Linked DNA regions of Homo sapiens. The protein of the gene in region 1 purifies or fractionates together with the protein of each later gene. This does not show direct contact. Each region holds a gene or a part of one and is shown on either strand. Other genes may lie near its edges.

Region 1 (3,359 bases):
CTTCGTTGCTTTGACTCCTGCAGTTTAGAACCTATGCAAGGCTGTCAAGTCTGCAAGAGCTGTGTGTTAGTGCCACGGGTCTAGGTGTTCCAGCTAATAACCTTAGCCTTAGACCAGTATCAGGCGCACAGAGAGTAACGTTGACCGCACCCAAGGCACCGACCGTCGCCGGCAAGTAGCTGGGTCTCAAAACACTAGTGGAGTAAGGCAGCCTGATGCAGATCAAAAGCGCTGGCCCCTCGGGCAAGGTCAAATAAACATCAAGGAAAGGCAAAACCAAGGCGTTGAAAGCCTATGCAGTTAAGACCTAAAATGCAGGCCACCACATGAAAGAGCGTTGAGCCAGAAAACAAGAGGATGGGTTAAGCAGGGTACAATTAAGTGGCCAGGAGTTTAGAAAACGAGAACAATGTACAAGAAAGCAGCAGAGGGCCTGAACAGCAAAACAAAGCCAGCTAAACCAATGGAGAACAGCGTAGGGAGGCCCAGCCCTAGGCGAAAACCTGAGGGAGCGCTTAAATTTGGAAATTTAAATGAAGCATCGAGGGAACTGAATGCCACTATTTCAAATGTCTATTTGGATCAGTGCAGTTTAGTGGTCTAATGCGTCTCAAAGGATTACAGCCCTTTTCACGGACAAAGTGGTTGGCTCTGAGAAGAGCCTTTGGATTTAAGGTTTGTACTCAAAACAATTCACGCCCTCTCCCCACGAATGCGGCGGGCAAGCTGGATGTCTTTAGGCATGATGGTCACGCGTTTGGCATGAATAGCGCACAGGTTGGTGTCCTCGAAAAGCCCCACCAAGTAGGCCTCGCAGGCCTCCTGCAGCGCCATCACCGCGGAACTCTGGAAGCGCAGGTCGGTCTTGAAGTCCTGAGCTATTTCTCGCACCAGGCGCTGAAACGGCAGCTTCCGGATTAGAAGCTCGGTAGACTTCTGGTAGCGACGGATCTCGCGCAGAGCCACGGTGCCAGGGCGGTAGCGATGGGGCTTCTTCACGCCGCCCGTGGCCGGAGCGCTCTTGCGAGCTGCCTTAGTGGCCAGCTGTTTGCGCGGTGCTTTACCGCCTGTGGATTTACGAGCCGTCTGCTTAGTACGCGCCATAGTTCATCTGCAAAGTAAATGAGTTAGGAAGATTGGTTTGCCCCTCTATATAGGAACAGAATCACTCTGATTGGATTGTGGACGATCCCTGTTAGTGATCGGTTGCTAAATTCCGGAAGTGGCCGTAGAGATTCACGATTGGTTTATTTTTTCAGTGCAAGATTCTGATTGGTAAATTTGGATAGAGAACTGGCTCTTTCAAACAAGTCGTTTTCCGTTACAGGTTTCTTTGATGTTTCACGTAGACCATGACCTGCAAAGACATTGATCATTTAACTTAATAGACTGATCTGTTATCCTGTTTAGCTATAAAAAATCGAATGTGTTTGCGTTAGAAAGTGCTTTAGAATTTTTTTTCCAAAATCTCCGCTGCTTTTTTCTGCATTTTCCTGAAGTTTTTCCCTTCCTTATTCACTCATTTAAAATCCGTTGCCTAAGTATCTCTCAATGATTCCTCGTTTCATTATAGAGTACAAGGCTAATTCACTCAAACAAGGTTTTCTAAGATACACTGTTAAGCATAAGGAACTTTGTGTTTCATTTGTGTTATAGTAAAATTCTAATATCCTGGAATCCCTACCTCTGTAATATCGGGTTTGACTCAAAGAACTTAACACTATTATTTCGTTTTGTTGAAATTAAAACGTCCAGACATAATGGCAAGAGCCGTCAAAAAAAGTATTTTCAATTTAAAATCTTGAAAAAGATGGCGGCGAAGAGAGTGTTAGAAGGTTGTTTCTCTGTAAGACAACAATGGCGCAGTTTCTCCGGATCCCTGCGGGAGAGAGCTGAGGTGCACCGAACAATTTAAGACACATCCAACAGAACTTTTATAGGAACTGGACTCACCCAAATAACAGGACTTCTTAACTTGGTTTTCGCTTCCACACTCAACAGCTCCCAATTACTTTGAAAAAGTAACAAATGTTTACTGGAAAAGATTCTTAAAGAATGACATTACAGCCTAACACTATTGTGAATTAACCTATCGGATTCCCTGTAAGGTGTTCTTTTCCTAGCCAATAAAAAGAGCAGTTTGGGAATTCCTAATTTACATACTTTTAATCTATTGGCTACTTTGGTTCAGGCAGAGTTTTGATTTACAAGTTCGCGTTTGTGTAAGCGTACTATAAATATTTCAGAGAGGGATAGTGCGCGTGCGTGCCCGTTGCAAGGTCTAGTTTCTTTTTGTTTTTCTTTCCCAGTAGGTTTTCTTTCTCATTGGAAAGCTATTTTGTAAAGTGTAGCAGGTTCGCAATGACGCTGGCATGTAGTCCAAGGCGATTGACATCATGAATATGCTGGAGCCCCCGTCCTCCAGGGAGGGGAAACGGCTAAACCAAATTTATCACTGCCCGCAAATGCCCGCGGATGTCTGCAAGCTGGAGTGGAGAGGAGACAAAGGATGCTTTGTGCATTCCTGCTCATTCCCTGAATTCTGTTAAACCTGCCCTATTTTAGGGCATTCATCAAAATTCTGCTAACCACAGGATTGATACAATTGCACCTTTCAAGTTAGTGTCTATTTTGCAAATTTGAATTATCTTAGGACTCGTGGGCAAGTCTTGACTGAAATTACACATTGTCGTGCGTTTCAATCTCACATCTGAAATATATATGAGTCCCTTGCTTCTCTCCTTTTCAGAAAAAGAAAATTCTGTACACTTTAAATCACGGTAAAACGGTTAGGTATGTTGGCAAAATTGTTTCATAGGAAGCAAGGGAAGAACTGAAATCCTTTTGTATAATATGATTACGTATTTGTGGGCTGGGCCGTTTGTTAATGAGAGCTATGCACCCCCTGTGCTTTTCCTCTCCACACTCCCTACATCTCATCTTCTGAGGCCCAAGACCTGTTTATTGATATTATCTTCTGTTTTCTCATTTTCATTTTAGTTTTTTCATTTCTATTATTAGAATGTTAATATCTACATCTAAAAAATGTTTCCAAAATCAAAAGATAAACTTTAGGTCACAGTCAGTGAGAACCATTAAGGAAATTCCATCTTTATGCCCCATAGTTCTATTTCCTCCCCAGTGTTCTTAAATCTGTCAATCCGGTGTTTTGCCATTGGAACCTACCTTCAGTTCCTTTCATAATCCTCATCTCTAAATATGTGTAAAGCTTTATTTTAGAAGTCAGTGCAAAATTTACATGATTACATAAGAACTTAGCAGCTCACTTGTATTAATCAGTAATTTCCATCACTATTTCCATACCTGAACACAATTTCCCATAGGATCTGTGTTATGTG
Region 2 (3,751 bases), on another chromosome or scaffold:
ACTTGAGCCTGGGAGGCAGAGGTTGCAGTGAGCCGAAATCGCGCCACTGCACTCCAGCCTGAGTGATAGAGTGAGACTCCATCTTAAAGAAACAAAAAAATGTAAAGCTGTGAACATCTGCTTTGCATGGCCTCCCGACAGACACGGTGAGCATCGGCAGAAAGCCCACTAGGTCACAGCAGCTGGGCAGTCAGGAGGAAATGGTGTGCAGCAGGCCCGCAGGAGGCAAGAGGGGGCTGTGGGGCCACGGTGCAGATGCGGACGGGATCCCATCCCCAGCAGCCACGTGGGCGAGTGTCACCAGATGAGATTTTTCGAGAGAAGCTGGAAGTCTGGATGTTGAGGTGCGTTCAGGTTTCAGACCACACAGCAGGTCAAACACCAGCTGTCAGTGAGTGAACACAGCTGGGCTGCATCCTTAGCCCCTCACTGTGGGACAGAGACTCAAACACAAGCCGTCTGTGAGTGAAGACAGCTGGGGCACATCCTTACCCCCTCACTGTGGGACAGGGACTCCCCAGGCTCCTCTTCTTCCCACTCCTCATCACTGTCCACCTCATAGTCCAGGAGCTTCTGAGAAAAGAAACACATGGGACTCACAACTGTCTTTGGGGCTGGAGGAAAGGGGCACAGTGAGGAGGTACGGGGACGGAGGCACTCTGGGGCTAGCTCACCGTGTCCTGGGCCCAGGGGTCTCGCGCGCGGATGAGTGCCGTCTTCTTATTCCAGGTACCCCAGTAGGCAGGCCGGTGGTTCTCACAGAACTGCAGGAGCTTCATCCTGCCAAACTTCCTCCTCTCGGGAACACCGTCGCCCTTCCCACGCTCCACGATGACGACATCACTGAGAAGGAAAACCCCAGGCTCAGGATCACGCTGCCTTACAGACCTGCTCACAAACCTCCCAGGAACCTCCCTGTGAAGCTGGCCTAACAATTCTAGAAAGATGGGCATTTGTTAAAAAGCAGCACTGCCTGTCCCCAAAGAAAGGTCAGGAACATGGACTGAAGGGACAGATGGAGGAGGGTGCAGCCTGCAGGGTGAGAGGGAGGACAGCTGCCCAGGTGCAGCCCCAGAGCATTTTTAGCAAGGGAGGTTCTGTGGAATGAGATTTGCAAGAGCGAGGTGTTGGGGGGTATCCTTCACTGGAGACCAGCAGGGAAATAAGATTCCTCCACGAGGAGCTGGGAAGACAGGGAGAGGAAGACTTCAGGAGCTTACAGGAAGGCCAGGTGGAGAGAGGCCTGAGCCAGCACCGAAGCCCAGGGCCCGAGGGCACTAGGAAGCAAGCAACAGAAGGACCCAGAGCTCCCACCCCGGGGACCCCAGGGTTCAGGATGCTGGCCTCCAGCATCACTAGTGGGTGAAGGCCGACCTCCTCAGGCTCTGACCTGTTAAAAATATCTGCATTCCGGGTGGAAACGTGCGTGGGTCCGGACCTCAGGGGCTGCCGGCCTTTGAGGTCTTTCAAGAAGGAGAACTCGCCGCTCTGCTGCTGGAGGAGCTGGTCCAGCTGACTGCAGAGGTCTGGATGGAAAGCGGTCCGACGCCGAGGGGCCAGGACCATGTGCTCTTTAATTTCAAAGGGGGCAAACTTCCCACAGGAGCCGGCCAGGGTCTGAAATCAAGAAGAGACCCGATGGGGTCTTCGAGCAATGGGAGAAAGGAGGCACCATGGACGCACACAGCAGGGTGCTGGTGGGATTCATCCAGGCTAAGGCCAAGGCACAGACTCAAAAGCCCAGGCACTGTGTGGGTCCACAGAGCCGAGTTTCCAGAGCTACAGGGCAGAGGGCAGATTGGCAGTCTCAAGGGCCGGCGGTGGGGGGACAGACTACAAGGGAGCTGTTTTGAGTGATGGAAATAGGGTTTATCTTCATTATGGTTAGCTGGCCCTGTCATTTGTCAACACAAATGTCCTGAAAAGAGTTTATTTTATTGGATGTAAATTATATCTCAACAAACCTCACTTAAAAAAAAAAAAAAAAAAGGCCGGGGGCAGTGGCTCATGCCTGTAATCCCACCACTTTGGGAGGCTGAGGAGGGCGGATCACCTGAGGTCAGGAGTTCGAGACCAGCCTGCCCAACATGGTGAAACCCCATCTCTACTAAAAACAAAAATTAGGCCAGGGGCAGTGGCTCATGCCTGTAATCCCACCATTTTGGGAGGCGGAGGAAGGCGGATCACCTGAGGTCAGGAGTTCGAGACCAGCCTGCCCAACATGGTGAAACCCCATCTCTACTAAAAACAAAAATTAGGCCAGGGGCAGTGGCTCATGCCTGTAATCCCACCACTTTGGGAGGCTGAGGAGGGCGGATCACCTGAGGTCAGGAGTTCGAGACCAGCCTGGCCAAGATGGTGAAACCCCGTCTCTACTAAAAATACAAAAATTAGGCCAGGCGCGGTGGCTCACGCCTGTAATTGTAGCGCTTTGGGAGGCCGAGGCGGGTGGATTGTCTGAGCTCAGGAGTTCGAGACCAGCCTGGGCAACACAGTGAAACCCGGTCTCTACTAAAATACAAAAAATTAGCCGGGCACGGTGGCATGCACCTGTAGTCCCAGCTACTTGGGAGCCTGAGGCAGGAGAATTGCTTGAACCTGGGAGGCAGAGGTTGCAGTGAGCTGAGATCGTGCCACTGCACTCCAGCCTGGGGGATAGAGCAAGACTCCATCTCAAAAACAAAACAAAACAAAACAAAAATTAGCTTGGCATGGTGGTGGGCACCTGTAGTCCCAGCTACTCAGGAGGCTGAGGCGGGAGAATCGTTTGGATCTGGGAGGCAGAGGTTGCAGTGAGCCCAGATCACGCCACTGTACTCTAGCCTGGGCCTGAGGCAGGAGAATTGCTTGAACCTGGGAGGCAGAGGTTGCAGTGAGCCGAGATCGTGCCACTGCACCACTCCAACCTGGGGGATAGAGCAAGACTCCATCTCAAAAACAAAACAAAACAAAACAAAACAAAAATTAGCTTGGCATGGTGGTGGGCACCTGTAGTCCCAGCTACTCAGGAGGCTGAGGCAGGAGAATCGTTTGGATCTGGGAGGCAGAGGTTGCAGTGAGCCCAGATCACGCCACTGTACTCTAGCCTGGGCAACAGAGCAAGACTCCTTCTCAAAAAAAAAAAAAAAAAAAAAAAAAAAAAAAGACAGGGTCTTTTTTTGAAAGATCACAACTCCTCTTTTTTTTTTCTGAGATGGAGTCTCGCTTCATTGCGCAGCCTGGAGTACAGTGGTGCAATCTCGGCTCACTGCAACCTCTGCCTCCTGGGTTGGGCGATTCTCCTGCCTCAGCCTCATGAGCAGCTGGGATTACAGACGCCTACCACCACGCCCGGCTAATTTTTGTATTTTTAGTATTTTTAGTAGAGACACCTTGTTGGCCAGGCTGGTCTCAAGCTCCTGACCTCAGATGATTCACCCGCCTTGGCCTCCCCAAATGCTGAGATTACAGGCATAAGCCACCGCACCTGGCCAAAAGGAGAAATTTCAGTATAATGAAAGACACTGTAGCTGGGCGTGGTGGCTCACACCTGTAATCCCAGCACTTTGGGAGGCCGAGGTAGGCGGATCACCTGAGGTCAGTAGTTCAAGACAAGCCTGACCAACATGGAAAAACCCCGTCTCTACTAAAAATACAAAATTAGCTGGGCGTGGCAGCACATGCCTGTAATCTCAGCTACTCGGGAGGCTGAGGCAAGAGAATCATTTGAACGCAGGAGGCAGAGGTTGTGGTGAGCTGAGATCATGCCACT

What was found.
Region 2: the proteins of H3C6 (region 1) and CHAF1A purify together in Homo sapiens (affinity purification with western blotting; 5 studies listed by BioGRID, with this or other methods). This does not show direct contact.

Annotation. Positions count from the first base shown.
Region 1 is NC_000006.12:26,222,900-26,226,258, reverse strand, and holds H3C6 (histone H3.1), read right to left. Parts: upstream 1,125-3,359; 5' UTR 1,105-1,124; coding exon 694-1,104; 3' UTR 643-693; downstream 1-642. UniProt on the Homo sapiens protein: Core component of nucleosome. Nucleosomes wrap and compact DNA into chromatin, limiting DNA accessibility to the cellular machineries which require DNA as a template.
Region 2 is NC_000019.10:4,426,530-4,430,280, reverse strand, and holds part of CHAF1A (chromatin assembly factor 1 subunit A), read right to left. Parts: intron 1,618-3,751; coding exon 1,391-1,617; intron 844-1,390; coding exon 675-843; intron 574-674; coding exon 493-573; intron 1-492. UniProt on the Homo sapiens protein: Acts as a component of the histone chaperone complex chromatin assembly factor 1 (CAF-1), which assembles histone octamers onto DNA during replication and repair.